Linked DNA regions of Homo sapiens. The protein of the gene in region 2 purifies or fractionates together with the protein of the main gene of each other region. This does not show direct contact. Each region holds a gene or a part of one and is shown on either strand. Other genes may lie near its edges. The genes, in order: KCTD8 and CEP162.

The links.
Region 1: the proteins of CEP162 (region 2) and KCTD8 purify together in Homo sapiens (affinity purification with mass spectrometry; 2 studies listed by BioGRID and IntAct, with this or other methods). This does not show direct contact.

What each region holds. Positions count from the first base shown.
Region 1 is NC_000004.12:44,444,791-44,453,818, forward strand, and holds the start of KCTD8 (BTB/POZ domain-containing protein KCTD8), read right to left. Parts: upstream 4,020-9,028; 5' UTR 3,734-4,019; coding exon 2,773-3,733; intron 1-2,772. UniProt on the Homo sapiens protein: Auxiliary subunit of GABA-B receptors that determine the pharmacology and kinetics of the receptor response. Increases agonist potency and markedly alter the G-protein signaling of the receptors by accelerating onset and promoting desensitization.
Region 2 is NC_000006.12:84,224,081-84,232,949, forward strand, and holds the start of CEP162 (centrosomal protein of 162 kDa), read right to left. Parts: upstream 3,564-8,869; 5' UTR 3,500-3,563; intron 2,373-3,499; 5' UTR 2,314-2,372; coding exon 2,257-2,313; intron 1-2,256. UniProt on the Homo sapiens protein: Required to promote assembly of the transition zone in primary cilia. Acts by specifically recognizing and binding the axonemal microtubule.

The DNA.
Region 1 (9,028 bases), on a different chromosome or scaffold from region 2:
GACGGGGGTTGGGGGGGAATAACATTGATGCTCAAGTGTGTAAACTACAACAGTTTCAACTACTAAGTTCACATGTCACCTGGATTTTAAAAGGTGTTAAAGTGACTGATACTTGTTATACACTAAATAAATGTCACACAACAAATAAATATTTGCTGAAAAAAAGGGTGTCAAAGGGGGAAATAAAAGCTATTAAGGTTATTTTCTGCATCTAAAACATAAGTGGACAAACAAGGTCACCCAGTAACTTTGCTCTTATGAGTAACACCGATAATCTTTTTAAATAGAAACTTGCCAAATAAGATAAACACATTTGGTCATCAACTAAACTGAATACGATGGAAATACATTTTACAGTGTGTTTTCATTCACCAAATATTAAAATGAATCCCATTCAAAATAATGTGTAAAAATATAATGAAAGCTGTAAAAAATAAAATAAATATATGTATTCTAGTACTCAAGACAAATTTTACATCCAACATTTAAAATGACAACTCCACCTGGTTGATCAACGACTAGCTTACCACTTCAAAAGAACAATATTTAATCTGGAATTGCATATTTTCTCCCAAAATAGGTTGCCTCCTTAGATTTCTGGGACTTTTTATGAATGAATTTCAGAGGTCATTAATAATATGAGTACTCTGAAAGTAGTTATTCATAATATGAATATTTAACACTTCTGTAGCTCTAGAAGTGAAACATCCTGAATTTCAAATATCTCTCAAATTTATCCCATTAGCTAAATTAACTAAGTTTCCAGTTTCAATATACTAAGGGCACTTTTTTCCTAATGTAGAGATAACCTGTATTATCTCTTCATAATCAAAGTAATGATCATTTTCATGTCCACATCTTTCTAGAGGAATAAGAAAAACCAAAACCAAGTAAGATTTTCAAAATTTCAGAAAACTGTGCAGAACATTCATGCTTGTATCTTCTCTAACAAAAAACACTAACTACAAGAAAGGCAAAAGTTCATTTTACCTTATCTTCTGAAATGTTTGGAAATCTACATTGAAATGACTTAAATGGTTTAAAATCTAAAAAGTTGTTGACAAAGGTCACAATGATAAGAAATAAAATGGTGCTAAAATACTTAATTACTCAATATATATTTAAGAGATGTCAATTTTATACAAGCAATAAAATATCTTCCCTTGGGTGGCTTTTCTGACCATTAATCTTTTTATTGTGTAACAAGTAATACTTTGATATAATTAAGACAGTTTTTTAGCTTCCAATTCAGTGGACAGACACTTCATTTGCTTCTCTGTTGAAACCGTTGTCTCAAGAAATCCAGCATTACTTTAAAAAGTAGTCTAACTCTGAGAACCTGTGTGCTGTGGTTTGTCACCCAACTTCCAAGGTTACCAGAATATACAAACACTAAGCCAACCTTCCAGTTAAGCTTGCACCTGTGCAAGGAGAGTTCCCTTCCATTTCTCCAGTCAAAATAAAGTCCAGAAAATTGTTCAGTTCCCAATTACTGTAGTGACTAAATTACCAAAATAAATAAATTCAATTTAAGCTGGTCTATTTCCATCACAGGATTTCAAGGCTATTCTCCCTATGCTACAGGCAAGTTTTAACTTGTGTCTGGCCAAAGGAAAAACCTTTGCCAAATAATGTTCCTGCTGCCATCCCAGCTGGCTTTTCGTTTGTCCAAATCGCTCTCTAGTCGTTGTCTTTTCACTTCATAAACGCCACTGAGAATTGTGCCCACCACAGCCCCACCCCACTCCCAATCCCACTCCCAATCCCCAGGTTCAGATTATGGTATTTGGTATAGTTCTTGAACTCCACATAGCCCGCTCCGGAAGCGCACTGCAAAACGCACCCCAGATGCTTTCCCAAATCTATTCCTTCATTCTCTCATTTCAGAAAATCGCTCTATTTATTCACCCTGAGAAAGTGGACTCAACCCCCGCTTTCGCGCTGGAGAAGGAAACACAATCATTCTCTCTTTCTCTTCCCCTCCCTCCCCAACACCTTCCCTCCCTCCTCCCTTGCCCCTCCTAATCTCCAACCCTAAGAGCAGCACTCAGACATGCAAACTTTCTAATTCCTTCCACCCTCCCCTGTCCCAAACACTGGGCAATTAGACTGGAGATAACAGACGCAGGGAAATCTGGGTTTCCATCTGTCAAGGAGTCCCCTTTCCCCACACCCGCTCTCATGCCCCCGCCCCCTCGAGGGGCTCTGGGGGCACCTTTATCGCTTCTCCCCTGCCCTCTAGAAAACCACCCGTAACTGGAGGCTCCCGCGCGGCAGCTGCACCAACAGCAGGTGATCCAGGTGGTGCGAGGCGATGCCTTGTTATGGCATCCTGCCCTCTGCAGGGACACCACTGAGGGCCACATGAAATGACCCCCAGCAGTCCTGCAAAAGCAAAGGGGTGGAGGAGGGTCTATGCACCCTGCCCTGTGCCCCAGTCTCTCCCACCCTGTCCTCCGCAACCGAGGAGACCCTGGCATCTGGGAGCGGGCTGGGCCGAGAAGGCAAGATCAATAAAGTTCAGCAAGTAGACAGCTGGGAGCTGGGTGCTACTGAGTTCTAGAAAGGGGGAGTAGAGACGGAAATATCCGAATCGGTGAAATGTAAATCGTGTCTACTGCATAAGGGAATCGTGCAGGGAGAGCCGCTCTCTATAAGGAGTTAACCAGCGCCTGCCCCGGACACCCCCGCGGGGCCTCCAGCGGGGCTCAAACTGGCGGCGGCTCAGCAGGGGGCGAGGGGTGCTGGGAAACGCCGGGGCTGCGAACTTACGGAAGAAAATGTACTCGGTGTAGCTGCTCCAGATCTTGTCGTCGCGGTACTGGTTGACGAAGGCGGCGGTGCCCGAGGAGTTACACGCCACCATGTGGAAGCCGGCCTCGGACAGGCGATCAAAGGCCTGCTCCAAGTAGGTGAACTTGAGGTAGAAGCGGGACGTGTACTTCTCCGGCTGCCGGTCGGGGTCGCGGCTCTCGTTGAGCGTGTCCCCGAAGACCTCCTTGGCCAGCGCGATGCGCCCGCACACCATGATGCGCGCCACACGCCGGAATTTGGCGTCGGCCTGGTTGTCGCGCACGGTGGTGTAGGAGCCCCGGTAGCCCAGCGTGAGGAAGCCCGAGCGCTTGTCCTGCGCGCCGCCGCCGCCGCCACCACCGTGCGCTCCCGGGCCCGAGGGCACGGCGGCCGCCGCCCCGCGCAGCAGCAGCGCGTCGCTGCTACCCTGCGAGACGTTGTCCTCCAGGTCGCTCTGGCAGCCCTCGTCGTTGAGAGAGTTCTGCTTGGTGACCTTGGGCGACAGCAGCTTGACCAAGTCGGTGAGCTGGAAATACTCGGCCTCGCGCAGCAGCCGCTCCTTCTCGGGGAAGTGCTCCGGCAGCGCGAGTTGCTTGTCCCGCAGATAATCCAGCACGTACCTGAAAAGGAAGCCGTCCCGGTCGATGAAGAAGCGCGCCCGGCTGTCCCTGGGCAGCTCGCCCCGGCGCCGGGCGCCGCCACGGGGACTAGAGGGCGAGAACATGCTGGCCAAAGTACTGTCCGGGACGCTGAGCAGCGTCGAGTGCTTGGTCACATAAACCTGGCCGCCTACGTTCAGCTCCACTACTTCAGGGAAGGGCGAGGGTGCGCAGGGCCCCGGGGCGGCGGCGGCCGACGCGCCGGGCGAGCTGGACGAGGAAACCATCTCGCTAATGGGCAGGATGGTGCTGCCGCCGCTGCCCGTGTCCTTCAGAGCCATAGTCCCCCCGCCGCCGGCCCAGTGACCCGAGAGAGCTGCACTTTCTCGTTCCCGGAGCCCGCGCCCCAGCCCTCCGCGTGCTCCTGGCGCTCTGCGCCCTCGGACTGGGCGGCGCGTTCCTCCGACCGGGGCGGCCCCGCTCAGGGTTCGGGGCAGCGGCGGCGTCGGCGGCGCCCGAGCTCCATCGGAGGAGAGACGCGCGAGAGAGGAGCTCCGCCGGTGCGGCGGCGGCAATGGAGAGGCAAGAAGGAGCTGCTGCTCCTTTGGGGCGAGGGCGGGGAAGTGTGAGAGAGACTTGCGAGAGGCTCTAGGGCTGCTGCTCGGCTCTCCGTGGGGAGGGCGGGAGGAGGGGCCGAAGCAAAGAAAACTCGCCGCCCCGGCAGCTTGCAAGCGTGCCGCGAGGCCGGAGCGCCGACGGTGGCGCTAACTACTCCTGGCAGCACGGGAGGAGGCACTGACGTCAAGCCCCGGACTGGGACCCGAGCCTCAGCTGTCATTTAAAGAGATAGGCTGCAGCCGCGGCTCCCGGGCTCCGACGCTAGGGGGCGGGGCCGAGAGCCGAGCCTGCAAGAGGTGCAGCTCCCCGACCCGCGGGGACAGGCAGGCAGGGAGCTCCTAAAGCAAAAGCGAGAAAAAGGGACAGCGCTCTCATTCCTTCATTTCACTCCCTCCTTGGGTCTGTGCCACCCCCTTTCCTCCCTCCTTTCCTTCTTCTCTTCCTTCCTTCCTTGCCTCCCTCCCCAGTAAAACTAGTTTTTTGCACTTTCATTAAGGTAAGGAGTGGAGGAGCGGAGAGGGGAGAATAAGGTTTTGATTATAGCAAAGATGCCAGGCTCCTAATCTGAAATCACCACAAATGTTGGCTTGCCAGCAGTGATTGCAAAAAGATTACGTGAGGGTGGGAAGGTACATCTCTTGTAGTGGCTTTATGATACAGTTTAAGTGAAGGGCTAAATGCGCGTACCTCTCTTGGAATCAAATTTCACGACTGCGTGCACTGAATATCCTTGAATAATTTTTAAAACTTTGTAATCTGCTTTCAGTTCACAATAATAAAGGAGTGTATGTAACAACTGTTTCCTTCCGACATTTTTACAATTTTTAGTTTTAAATTAGATGCTTAATAAATGTTTATAGAGGGAGAGACGGAGCCCGAGAGGAAATTTACTCGATTTGTTCATTCTTTCTAATCCTGATCAGTCTCATTAATCTCTCCATTTCCCTTTCAGCTCCATCAAACAAGAGAAGTGGCTGATATTTTTATTAGTCTTCTAACCCCAAGAGTAAGGTCACAAATAAAAATTATATGAATTTAAGCTCACCTTAATTTCCATGTGTACATAGTACAGGTACAGTCTGCAAAATGAGCATTACTTGTGATAAAGACTGAAAATAGGAAAGCAAATGAGAAATATTTCTTCTACCCTGGGGCATACATCTGTGTTCAGAAACATAAAGAATCATTGATTTATGAAGTACAAAAGAGAAAAGGGTGTATTGTGGCACAAAGTAGTTTGCTTCAATTATCATAACAATATTACAGATGAACTTTATCCATTAGCAGTCGATATACAGATTTTAATATTTTTTAAAAAGTTAAATGCCTACTAACAACTCCTTTTCTTCAAACCACCCAAAAAAGTATCAAATTTCAGATACGGTTGTAAATTAATACATTATTTTTGGAACATTACAAATTATGTTTAAATCATTGATCCTTATAAGCTGCATCCATAGACAATGTTATACCAATTTTGAAGTTGCATTATATGAAGCAGAGAGAACCTAATGGACCAATGAAAGAACAGAATATATTTGCCAAAGGACTGAGACTTAAAACGGGGGTTTCGGTATGCATCATCATGCAATCCTTTTACTCAAAACTATTGTGTCCTGCCAAATTTATAAACTGATTGATCAAATTAACTAATTTAATTGATTTAGCCTTCATTTAAAAGTTAAAACCAAGTATTAAAATAACAGAAAAAATACACTATTTTCTGCCTCATTAGAAGAATATTCGGGATTTAAAGTAATCGTTCCTGGATAAATGAATTAATAGATGCTTTATAATCTTCATAGATGAATATATAATAATGCCTCAAACCACTACTAGTGAAGCCCATTTATCATAAGGTAAGTGTCCCTAATGATAAGTAAGGTGCAGACTGTAGAACTGTAATGAAGTGGATATATAATAAATATGCATGTGAATATGAAGTCGCTAATATCAGGTTGAAATCCATCTTTACTTTTGAATTAAATAAATTATGTCTATAAGATAAAGTGATCAAAAATTTATACTCTAAATGAATCATCTCAAAAATTCACAATGAATTGTATTGTTTGATATATTCCTTTTTAAAATGATTCCTTCAACTTGATTAAACATTTTTTCTTAATTTCTTCTCTCTTCACACTCCTATTACTCTCCTCTGTCTCCCAGTTATACCCTTCAACCAAACTCAGACTGAACAAATTGCAGATCTACAATGTTTCTATCTTTCCTCTTCCTTCTGCTAGGAATGCCCTTCCTCTTCCACCAGATCCCTAACCCATTCTCCCTGCTTACCAATTTCCTCCAGCTCTTAGTTTAAATATCACTTTCTCTAGAAATCTTTACATTCACTTACCCAACCTAGTGAAGCGTCTTCCTAAGATGTTCCCATAAGATCCCATGTTTATACATGGGCAAGGTTTATCACACTGATGTGTAACTGTGTCCCGCCACGTTGTAAAAATGGCATGCGACCGTATGCACTATTATATCCCCATGGAGGTAGGCTATAGAGGTAGCCCATAAAGAGATAGCCAATTTATATGTGTTGAAAGCTCACTGAATAGAACTGTATTAATATCATAAATAGATGACAATGCATCACCTATGTGCTGGGTACCAGGCTAAATAATGAGATTGCAGGATTGAGTTAGAACTGTTCTTCACAATTAAAATCAGGTAAAGTGAGAACCAGAATCTAATCAAAATAAACTCAGAAATAAAAGAGAAGAGAAAGCAAGAAAGAGACACAATTGAAGCAATCCATTTGGTGAACTGAGCAATCAACACCAAATACCGTAATCAGAACCATTTTGCTCTAAGCCACAGACACCATTAATGTTCCTTAGACCAATTTGATCACATATGTGGGTCCTTTAAGATCTTCTGTTGCTACGCAAAGACAAGGCAGCAAGCTTCTCTGAATAGAAATTACACTAGAACAGTTCCCATACCCAGCACATTTTAAAATAACACGGTCAAACCTGAGTGTCTCTAAAAGCACAGCAAACAAACCAAAAAGGATATATTGAATCCAGATTTTAACACATAAATAATTTAAAATTTATAATAACAAATATTTCTTCACCAGGTAGAGAGTTACTTAAAGGCAGAAAATGTATCTTCTTCTAAAGGGGAGGAAGAACACAAATGATAACGACATTTAGAATCAAATAGAACTAGGTTAAAATCTAACTTTGTCTCTTACTAGCTTTGCAATTTCAGCAAGTTACTCCGAACCTCAGTTTCTTCATGGGCACCATGGAAATAACAAAGACCTCAGCTCATCACATCAATGATGATTTGTAACAAATCCACCTAAGTTTGATGGAGTTCAATATATTTATAATGTGTATTTCACAGTATGGTTCTCAGGGATGGGAACAGAGTTACATCTTGACTAGATAGATCCAAGATCCAGAAGCAGGTAACTGATTTTAGTCGCTCTACCTACCTTCCTTCCAGTTGTCTCACCCCTAAGGCCTGGGGTTACACAGCCCTGTCATTATGAACATCCCCATACCATCATGTCCTTCCCTGTCTGTATCTATTGTTGTCTCCTTCATTGCATGTTATCATCCTAGACACTGATATAATTTCGTTGATTTAATTTACCTTGGCCCTGTTCTTTTTTTTTTTCTTTTAACTTTGTTCAGTCTTTTGACCATGGTCTAATTACCCCTTTTAGCTTGCTTCTGTCCAAGGCCAACTGTGCTTCTAATTTTCAGGAAACCATCTGGTGTCTGTTAATCTAGTTCAGGACATTTGAAAGTTTTACCAAAATAAATAAATAATAAACACAAACAAACAAAAAACCCTCAAGTATCTCATGTAATTCTAAGTAAAAAGCCTGACATTCTTTCCAGTACCAGAGCCTTTGCAATTTTTAGAGCAGTGCTGTCTAATACAAATATAGGAACCATATATCTCATTTTTAATTTCTTACAGCCACATTAAAAAATAAACATGAAATTACTTTAATATTATTGTTTATTTAGCCCAGTATGTCCAAAATCTCATTTCAAAATGTATTAATGACATAATTTACATTTTGTTCCACACAAAGTCTTGAAAATATGGTATGTATTTAGCTCTTCTGACACATCTAAACAGTTATAACTTGGACTAGCCATATCTCATATGCTCAATAGTCGCATGTGCCCAGTGGCTTCTAAACTGAACAGCATAGCTCTAGAGCATTTGTGACTTTAAAGCTTGTCTGTGTTTTGAGGATTAGGTAAGAAAGTATAACTTTTAAAAGTTTTTAATTACAAGATTGTAATGAGAGGAGGCTGGAATTCAGTACTTGCGTAGAGTCATTTAACACGTGAAATGGGAACCATAAAACATCTCTCTGGCCAAAAAAAAAACAAGCAAAAATAACAAACAGAAAAAAAGAGAGAGTGAGAGAGAGAGAGGGAGGAGAAAATAGAAAGTAATCACGAAAGAACTTAGATATTCCTTACACAACAGGCACACCCCCATAATGCATGTATCACTCTTGTGAACAGCAGGCCAGGCCAGGGTTTATTTTGTGGGTATATGGCTTTTAGCAAAGTTAGAAATAAAGAGCTTCCTATCAGAGCAAACAAAGCAGAGTTAGCCTTTGTAGGAATAAGACTGAAGATAAGATGGGAAAGATCTTCTGCAAATTCAGCAATTGCTGCTGAATCTAGGGAAAGTTGGAAAGTAGAGTATGCATTGCCCCCAAACCTCATATGTTAATTGTAAGAGTGTCAATGGTTCTATAAAATGAAAAACTTTTGCAAATCAGATATTTAGGAAACTCAGAGTATCTATGCTAATGAACACATTAAATAACATATTCCAGCAACTTCAATATCTTAATATAATTCAATATGAGTTCTGATTCTATATTTAAAATTGTATAGAAATACTACTGAAGTTTAGGGTAACACGTGGTTAAACTCTATAAAATTAGATACCTAAAGAAATTGATGAAAGCTTGTATAGATTATGATCCAGTATAGCTAAGCATTTAATATAATACCGGCACA
Region 2 (8,869 bases):
ACATGATTGTTCATGGCAGCATTGTTTGTAACTGCCAAAAAGTGGAAAGAACCCAGATGTCCGTCAACTGACAGGTGGAAAAACAAAATGTGGTACATCTACACAATGAAATATTACTTATCCATAAAAAGAAATGAAGTGTTAATACATACTACGACATGGATGAACCTTGAAAACATCATGCTAAGTACAAGAAACCAGACCCAAAGGGCCCCATAATATATAATACAATTTCTATGAAATGTCTGTAACAGGCAAACATTTAGAGACAGAAGTCAGCTTAGTAGTTGCCTAAGGCTAGGGAAGGGGGAACAAGGAGATGGAGTAACTGCTAACAGATATGGGATTTCTTTCTGGGGTGATAAAAATTCCTATAATTGATTGTGGTGATGGTTACATAACTCTGAAACCACAGAACTGCACATTTAAAATGGGTGAATTAAATGGTATGTGAATTATGTCTCAATAAAGCTATTTTTAAAAAGCTGGTTACCACTACTGTCCTAAAAAATAAAGATATATAAACTATGTCTTTGAATAAATTGTTTGAACAATAATTTATCAAAGTGAGAAAAGTTAGCATGACTCTAAAATCATGACTTTCACAGTAAAAAAAAAATGACACATTGCAACTGAGGATGGATATAAGAGGAAGAGAGACACAGACAGAAGGGTGGGGGAAGGAGAGTGTTGGAGAATGTGTGTGCTGGAAGGGTGGTAAATGAGGGAAGAATAAAAACATCTTCTAAAAGGCCTGTTCTGCTATCTTTTACAATAAAAATCATTCCTATAAATTTAATTTTCAAAATGTGTCTGTATTTGAAATTTTAAAAAATCAACTTTTCAAATGGTAAATGAAACTTATTCCAAGTGCCTATTACATCTTGACAATTGGTAGATGCTTTTTTAAATCCTTAAAACAATTCTACAAAGAAGGCATTATTTTTCCATGAGACGGATAATGAAGTTTTTTTGTACTACATTAAACTCCCTTTTTTAACAAGAATGTATAACGTATAATAGCTTAAAATGTGACTCTCTTGAATGCTCTACAAGGCCCCTCCATTTATATAAATAGAGTTTTATGCATCGCTTAATTATGGGGATATGTTCTGAGAAATGGGATTTCATCATAGGAGCATCATAGAGTATATTTACACAAACCTAGATGGCTCCATGGTATAGCCTACTCCACACCTAGGCTATATGGTATAGCTTATTGCTCCTAGGTTACAAAGCTGTTCAGCATGTACTGTACTGAATCCTGCAGGCAACTGTAACACAATGGCAAGCATTTCTGTATCTAAACATAGAAAAGTAAACATATGGTACAAAAGATTAAAAAGATACACCTTTATAGGGCAGCCCCATTATAATCTTACGGAACCATTGTTGTATATGTGGTCTGTTGCTGACCAAACCATCTTTATGAGGTGCATGACTGTACACAGAACGTGGTATAACCATTTAATATACTCATTCAAATATTTATTAAGTATTTATTAGGTACTGTAGACATAGTAGTGAACATGTTGATATATAATAGCAATGAACGTAGAGTCATCACATTACAGACCATACATTCTTATAATGGGAAGCAGAAAACAGACCCATACAAGAAAAATAATTAATGTGCTAAGTGCTATAAAAAGAATTAAATACATACCAGATTAAGAAGTGACTTTGTGTTTACCTTTTACTGGATAAACAGAAGAAGCCTCTCTGAAGTGGTGATATTTAAGTTAAGATTTTCACCAGCCAGGTAAAGAGTAAGGGAGGAGCATTATTGGCAGAGGGAACAGTGAGTGCAAAGCTCCTAAGGTGAAATGAGCTTGCAATGTCTGGGAAAGAAAAAAGGCCACTGTGGAATAAATAAAGTGGGTGAAAGAGGGATATGAAGGCAGTGAGATATGTAAGAGTGAAATCATGAAAGGCTTTAAAACCATGGTAAGGAGGAGTTGTTTGTTTTTTTTTTTCTACATGTGATGGGAGACCAATAGAGTCTTTTACTGGGGAGGAACAGAGTCTGACTGCAGTGTGGTGAAAGGAATGCTGGACCATGAGTTGAGAACTGCTGCCATAGCCCAGTTGAGATGATGGCACTGAACTAGCAGTGGCAGAAAAGGGACAGGGCTAGAGGGATGATGGGAATTCAGAGTTTGGTGATGGACTAACTGTATCTTCGAGATGACAGAATTGAAGGATGAGTCTTTTGAGACAAATTTGACAATATAGCTTTTAAAAATATAAACTTACCTCTTTCATAAACTGTTCAAACTCTTCATCTAGCTCTTCTTGGGAACAGTTAGCCATAGTCAACAATTTTGACCTCCCAAAGTAAACATTCTAAAGTACCTCAAACATTGGAAACACTAAATGACAAGAGACATAAACATCTTTTGAGGAAATCCATCAGATCATGAACACGACCAGACTTAAACTTCGGACATTTGTTATGATTCAGTATATATGCACAATTTTTTTTAACCAGTAAGAGCTGGTCAAGAGATTCCTAATTCATTAAGCAAACTGATTTGGAAAAGCAGCTTTGACAGGATGTCTTGTACTCAACGTTCAGAATTATGTTTTCATCTGTTAACATCCAATTGTTAAAGAGTGGTCTCTACAATATTTCCCAAACCTATGTTTGTGTGCATGTGTTAATTAGTACCTCTCAAACACAAACCAGGTCCTCACAGGGAATCTTAAAAACTGTAAGTTAGCAAATCCAAAGGACTGTTTCTTTCTTGCAAAGCACACGACAGTTTGTGCTGCCTTATCACTCGGCTCGTTATTTTACCAATCCATAGTAATAGTTTCGTAAAGCAGACTGCATAGTTTCGTAAAGCAGACTGTATCCAGATACGGGGATGTTTCAAAATATACACAAATAGAATTTAGTAAGAATTAGTAATTTAGTCAAAATACTTAAAGAATACTTAAAGTTAATGGAGTACACAAATCAGTACTATGTTTCTTTTGAAGCGAGGGAAGACCGACAAAAATTATGTGCTGAACACAAGCAGAATCCAGTGATTTGCAACGGAAAGCGTTCCCCTAGACACCTAATGAACCCAACCTTGGGTCGACCCCCAGCTCCTGAACTCCCTAGAGCAGCTCAAATCCCAGCTTTCTTCTGTAGAGATGGGGGAGGGGAAGAGGGCTTGCAGACCCGGACAATACCCTCCCCATCGTGCAGAGTAACACCTCTTCCCCTCATTTGCACTTTCGATCAGTTCAGGGTAAGTGCGGTTAAGGTCTTGGCCTGAATAGCTTGGTCAGGGGTGAGCTCCACTAAAAGCTTCTCAAGCCTGGCTGCGACCCCGTCCCCAGAAGCGCGGGTTCGGGAATTGGAGGGAAGACAAAGACGCATTTGCCGTGGGCTCCGGGCGGAGAAGGGGAATGACCTGGAAAATTAAAGCCCTTCGCTCGAGTATGAAGCACGGCCTCGACCAGGGCGATTTGGGTGGGAAACCAGCGTTCACACCTTACCACCTACCTCTGCCTCTGAATTCCGCGCTTTCCCGGAAGGTCTGTGCGGGTCCACCAGTTGTCAGGGTAACAGACTTCAGCTGCCGGGTTCTGGAGTCACATGACCCGGGCTGGTCACGTGGGCCGTGGGTTTCCCAATGCCTTTACAAGCGAAGGTCGGAATAACCACGGCTGAGAAAGACACTCTAGTGGCTAAACCTTCGCTGCTGCAGTAAAATGCCTTTCCTTCCCTGGCTTTCTCTACGTTCCTTAGAAAAGGGGACAGCGGCAAACCGGTTACTGGAGAAGCGAGACGGAGGCTTCCAGCAGGCTTGGAGGGCGCGGTGGTTGTAGGCCAGCCCGTGGCTTTCTGGGAAATGTAGTTTAGCTCCCCTGGTCCTTGTGTTTCCGCACTCCGCATCGTCGCCTCCCGCCTTCCCCACACTTGTCATTCGAGCGCTCTGTTTTTCCAAGGGGCAATTTTGAAGAGATTGAATTTCTTGGATTTCTTTGGCCTGCAAAGACCTGTGTAGGCATTGTGAGAGAAACACAAACCTGTGAGGAAAAAAACTGTCGTTTAGATGGGGACTCTGTTCCACCACCTAGTGGGCAAGAAATCGAAAATACGCAAACAGCAAGATTCTTATTAAGTTATTGCTCCTCCCGCTACCCCTACTTTTCAAAACTGCATTCTTTACTGGCATTTCACAATTACTGACTTGGATTTTGTTTTCTATTTCTTTTCTTTTTTTCAAAGCATGCAACATTAGCTGGAGTTTCAGAGGACAACATTTAGCATAGTGTAAGTAAAATCTACAACAGCTGCAGGTTTTGCTGATGGTAGACTTAGTTCAGGACCTCATCTTTAGCTAGAACTGTTTATTCATCAAGTCTTTCTTGCAATACAAATATGTACAAACCAGGAGCTGTGGACTATGATGCAAATATGAATAATAAAAGAAATATCTTAAGCTACCATTTATTGAGAAGTTGACTTCCTGCCACCTTCTATCAAAGACTTACCTTCCCACATATGATCTAGAGCCTTTACCCATTCTTCTTCTCACTGATCTTGTTCCACTGGTCATTTCCCTTAATCCTGTATCTTCGACTTCTGGCTGGCTGTGGGATTTTTCCTAACAGCATTTGAACATGCCTTGAGATCCCCACCTAAAACATCACTTCTGACACATTCTCTTCATGCTATTATTTCCCAGTGGTTGAAATGATCTGTCTCCTCACCTTACTTGCCAATCTTTTCTGAGGAATTATTTCCACTTTACCTCCCTTTTGTCAGACCTTTTAATCCTGTCTCTGTGTGTGTAAGTGTACATATATGACAGCGCTTTATTTGATCTCCCAATACTATTTGATACACTTGTCTCCTCTCTTTCTTGGTTTTTCTTTCACATTTATAGCCTCCCCTCAAGGGTTTTCACTGTCTCTGTCTATCCTAGCTGACCTCTAAATGTTAGAATTTCTTTTCTTTTCTTCTTTTTCTTTTTTTCTTTTCTTTCTTTCTTTTTTTTTAATTTCTATTTTTTTGAGACGGAGTCTTGCTCTGTCACCCAGGCTGGAGTACAATAGTGCGATCTCGGCTCACTGCAACCTCCACCTCCTGGGTTCAACTGATTCTCCTGCCTCAGCCTCCCGAGTAACTGGGATTACAGGTGCCCACCACCACACCTGGCTAATTTTGTGTTTTTAGTAGAGACAGAGTTTCACCATGTTAGTCAGGCTAGTCTTGAACTCCTGATCTGCCCACCTTGGCCTCCCAAAGTGTTGGGATTACAGGTGTGAGCCACCGCGCCTGGCCAATGTTAGAATTTCTTAGGGCTTATTTCTGGACTCTTATTCTGTCACACTTCATGGTACTTCCATACACCTACTCATTCAAGACAGAAATCTGGGAGTTCCCTCTCTCCCATATTTTATTCGTCAAGACTTGTTGGTGCTACCTCCAAAATGTGTCTCTATTCTGTTCATTTTACATCTTAATTACTAATGATAGAGGCATCTTTTCCTCTTGTCTGAGCTGCTTCATTAGCCTTCTAACAAGTTTCTCTATTTCTACTCCTATCCTCGTCTAACCCATTGTCTACACAATAGAAAATGTGATAATTTGAAAATGTAAATCAGGTTACTCCATTGCTGAAAATCCTACAATGATTTCTCTCTGTATTTGTACTAAAATCCAAATATCTACAAGGACTTGCATGGTATGGTCGGCACTATTCTCTTCTACAGCCTCCTCTCACCCCCACTCACCAAGGCATGCAGAATTATTTGCAGCTCTGGTACAGAGTTCAGTCCTATTGAGGTTAGAATTGGAGCTTTGGTATAAGGAGTGGAAGATGAATGTTACTGTGTCTAAAGAGTGAATAATCATTTTGTCTCTATGCGTAAACCTACAAAACTTATGCTTATAGGATCCAAGAGTTTGTTATGCTGAATTGTGGAAGGGATGTCACTAAATTTTTGGTACTGAATTGAATTGTTATACATTTTTCAAAATAATAGTCATTAAAAGAATGATTAATATTTTTTGAGAGTTTACACTGTGCTGTATACTATTGTATTCATTTTTATAAAATGAATTGACCTCATGACCCATAATTTAAAACACCATTTAATACTAGCTCTCATCATAAATATATATCTAAAATGTCAATGAAATGGCTACTTTAGTAGTTAAATCACTCTGGGTAGCATCAAAGTTTCCTACTTTTAGATTCTCCATAATTGTTACAGGTTTCTCAATCATTATGTGTTTCTTTTTGTGTTTCCTAGAATGATATGAAATTTGATTTATATTTGGTGTTTATCCAGCTCTCTAGTGAGGTTCTAGAGGGGGAGACTGTACCTCAAGCCTTATATTGCCTTTTCTCGTAGCAAACAGTACAGTGTGAGAACTCGGTCAACACTGACAGTATAGTTGTAGCCAAGACCTGCAACGGTAATGGGGTGTAAACTTAGCACATTGTGGGAGTGGATTAAGGAGAAGAACTGAATCAGATACAGTTACATAATAGTTCCAGTTGCTTGCTTCTTTACCTCTAATTTTCAGAAGTGGGTATTCTCTTCACTTATGTGGATAATGAGGAAGACACTGAAGGAATCGTATCATTCTAGTCATAAGAAAATTAATGGTTTTTTTGTTATTGCCATCGTTATTTTGTTTGTCAAAGTCATTGTTGACTTCTGCTCATTTGTCCACATCTGACTGCTTTTGACTACTTAAAATTTTTCTTAATTGTTTTGTATATGAAATGTAGTAGTCAAAGTTTAAGCTATTGTTATAAGTTGTTCCCAAGAAAAAGAATAATAATTCATAGTAGAATATTGAGAAATTGTACAGTCATATTTACAAGTATTTAAATGTTTCTAAAATACAGGCAGATGCTCTTTCCCTAGGGTATGCAGAGCTGCCCATTTACAATTATATCATGAACTCATGGATGGTGATTTAGGTCATGAAATTGTTTTTAAAATAATTCTTTAATAATCCAGTAAATGGCCACTGAGGATGTCAGCAATTTGGCTATGCTTCTAAATAATACAGTTATCAACATGGTTTTATAATTATTATGGAAATGTAAAAACACAAAAATTGACGAATCAAGGAAAAACTCAGCCTATGAAGACCCTGTGAGGAGGAAAAGACAAACTAAAGACTAGGATGAAATATTTGCAAACCACATATCTGACAAAGGGCTGCTATCTAGAACATATAAAGAACACTAGCAAAATAGCAAAAGCAAAATACACAATTAGAAAATGGACAAAAGACACGAGTGGACATTTCACCAAAGGGGACATGAGAAAGGTATATGAAAATGGTGAATAAGCACATGAAAAGATGCTCAGCATCACCAAGATATTCCACATCATTAGGGAAATGCAAATTAGAACCACAATGAACTATCAACTGGGTGAGTGTAGATATGAAGAGGTAGCATAGGAAATCTTTGTAGTGATGGAATTGTTCTGTATCCTGATACAGTAGCAGTTATAACAAGCTACATGTTGATAAGATTGCATACAAATGCACACACACACCACACATATACAAGTGAGTGCATATAAAATTGGTGAAATCTAAATGACGCCTGTCCCATTTTCCCCAACTTTCTGTCAATCCGTTACTAGATAGAATAAGATCATAGGTTATATATATATGTTTCAGAATCCTTTCTTCTAGGAAAATCTTGTGAGAAGCACAATGTATAAAACAAAGCAGAGTTGCAATGGTTGGGAGGCAGGTGAAGGATGGTTTTGAGCTCTCTTTCTATGCTTTTTTATTGGTCTTGAAGGGACCTCCCTTGAGCTCCAGAGTGCTGTCTAAAACTGATATTTTAGATTATAATTCCGTAACCCAGATAATCACAAAATTTCTACATCTATTAATATATAATCAATGTAATACATACATGAATTCCCCAGCAAGTTAGAGAAATAAGTATAAATATGTGTTTTACGCATATATACAAAATTGTGATTTTTAGCACATCTAAAATATGGATTAAGCTCATCTGATTATTGACAAATTATTAGACTGGGTCTATGTGATAATGTTAGTCTAAAATTAAGTTTTTTTGTATTCACATACCTTAGATGATGGGGAGGTGATTGGATATAAGAAGAAAATATTAGAATTTATTTTCAATTTATTTTTATCTCAAACTTAATAAATTAAAGTTTGACTAATATTGCGGACTAATTGCTATAAATATATTAATTTATAAATAAATATTCATAAAGTGAGTGTGTTTGCCTCCAAATAGTTTTACTGACAGGGCTATATGGAACATTACTGATTTACTGAATGGAACTCTTAGAACACAGAATTACTTTATTAAAATATGTCGATAAGGTAGAAATTTGAAGTTGTGCTTATTATTTCTTAAGCTAAATGTTTTGGATTACAAATATCACTATTTTGTTGTATTAAGAAACCTAATGAAGAAAATGATTATAATATCTTTTAGCCAGAAACAAGTATTTTTCCAGTCACAATCTGTAGTCTTAAGCATAAATAGGCCATATAGAGTCATTTTCTAACCGATGGTCCTTTATTAGTTCCAATTTTGATGGTTGATACTCTACTTTTCTGTGTGCTCCATTGGACTGTCTTATATGTCACATTCACATGTTCATGGCCTCGTCTTTTACTCTTGTCACTGCTGCTGGGACCAGTTTCGCTCAGGCTTGACTAGCTTCACAGATTAAGTCAAAAGTGTGCCTGCCTTAAGCCTGCATGTGAACCTCTTGCTTTCCACTCCCTGGGGTTTCTCTGATACTTGAGGGAACCCATTCAGCACTCAAAGCTTGCACATCGGAAGTGTAAGGGACTTAACTTCTGTGGGCTAACCCTTGACCAGTGTGGGGAGGAACCGAT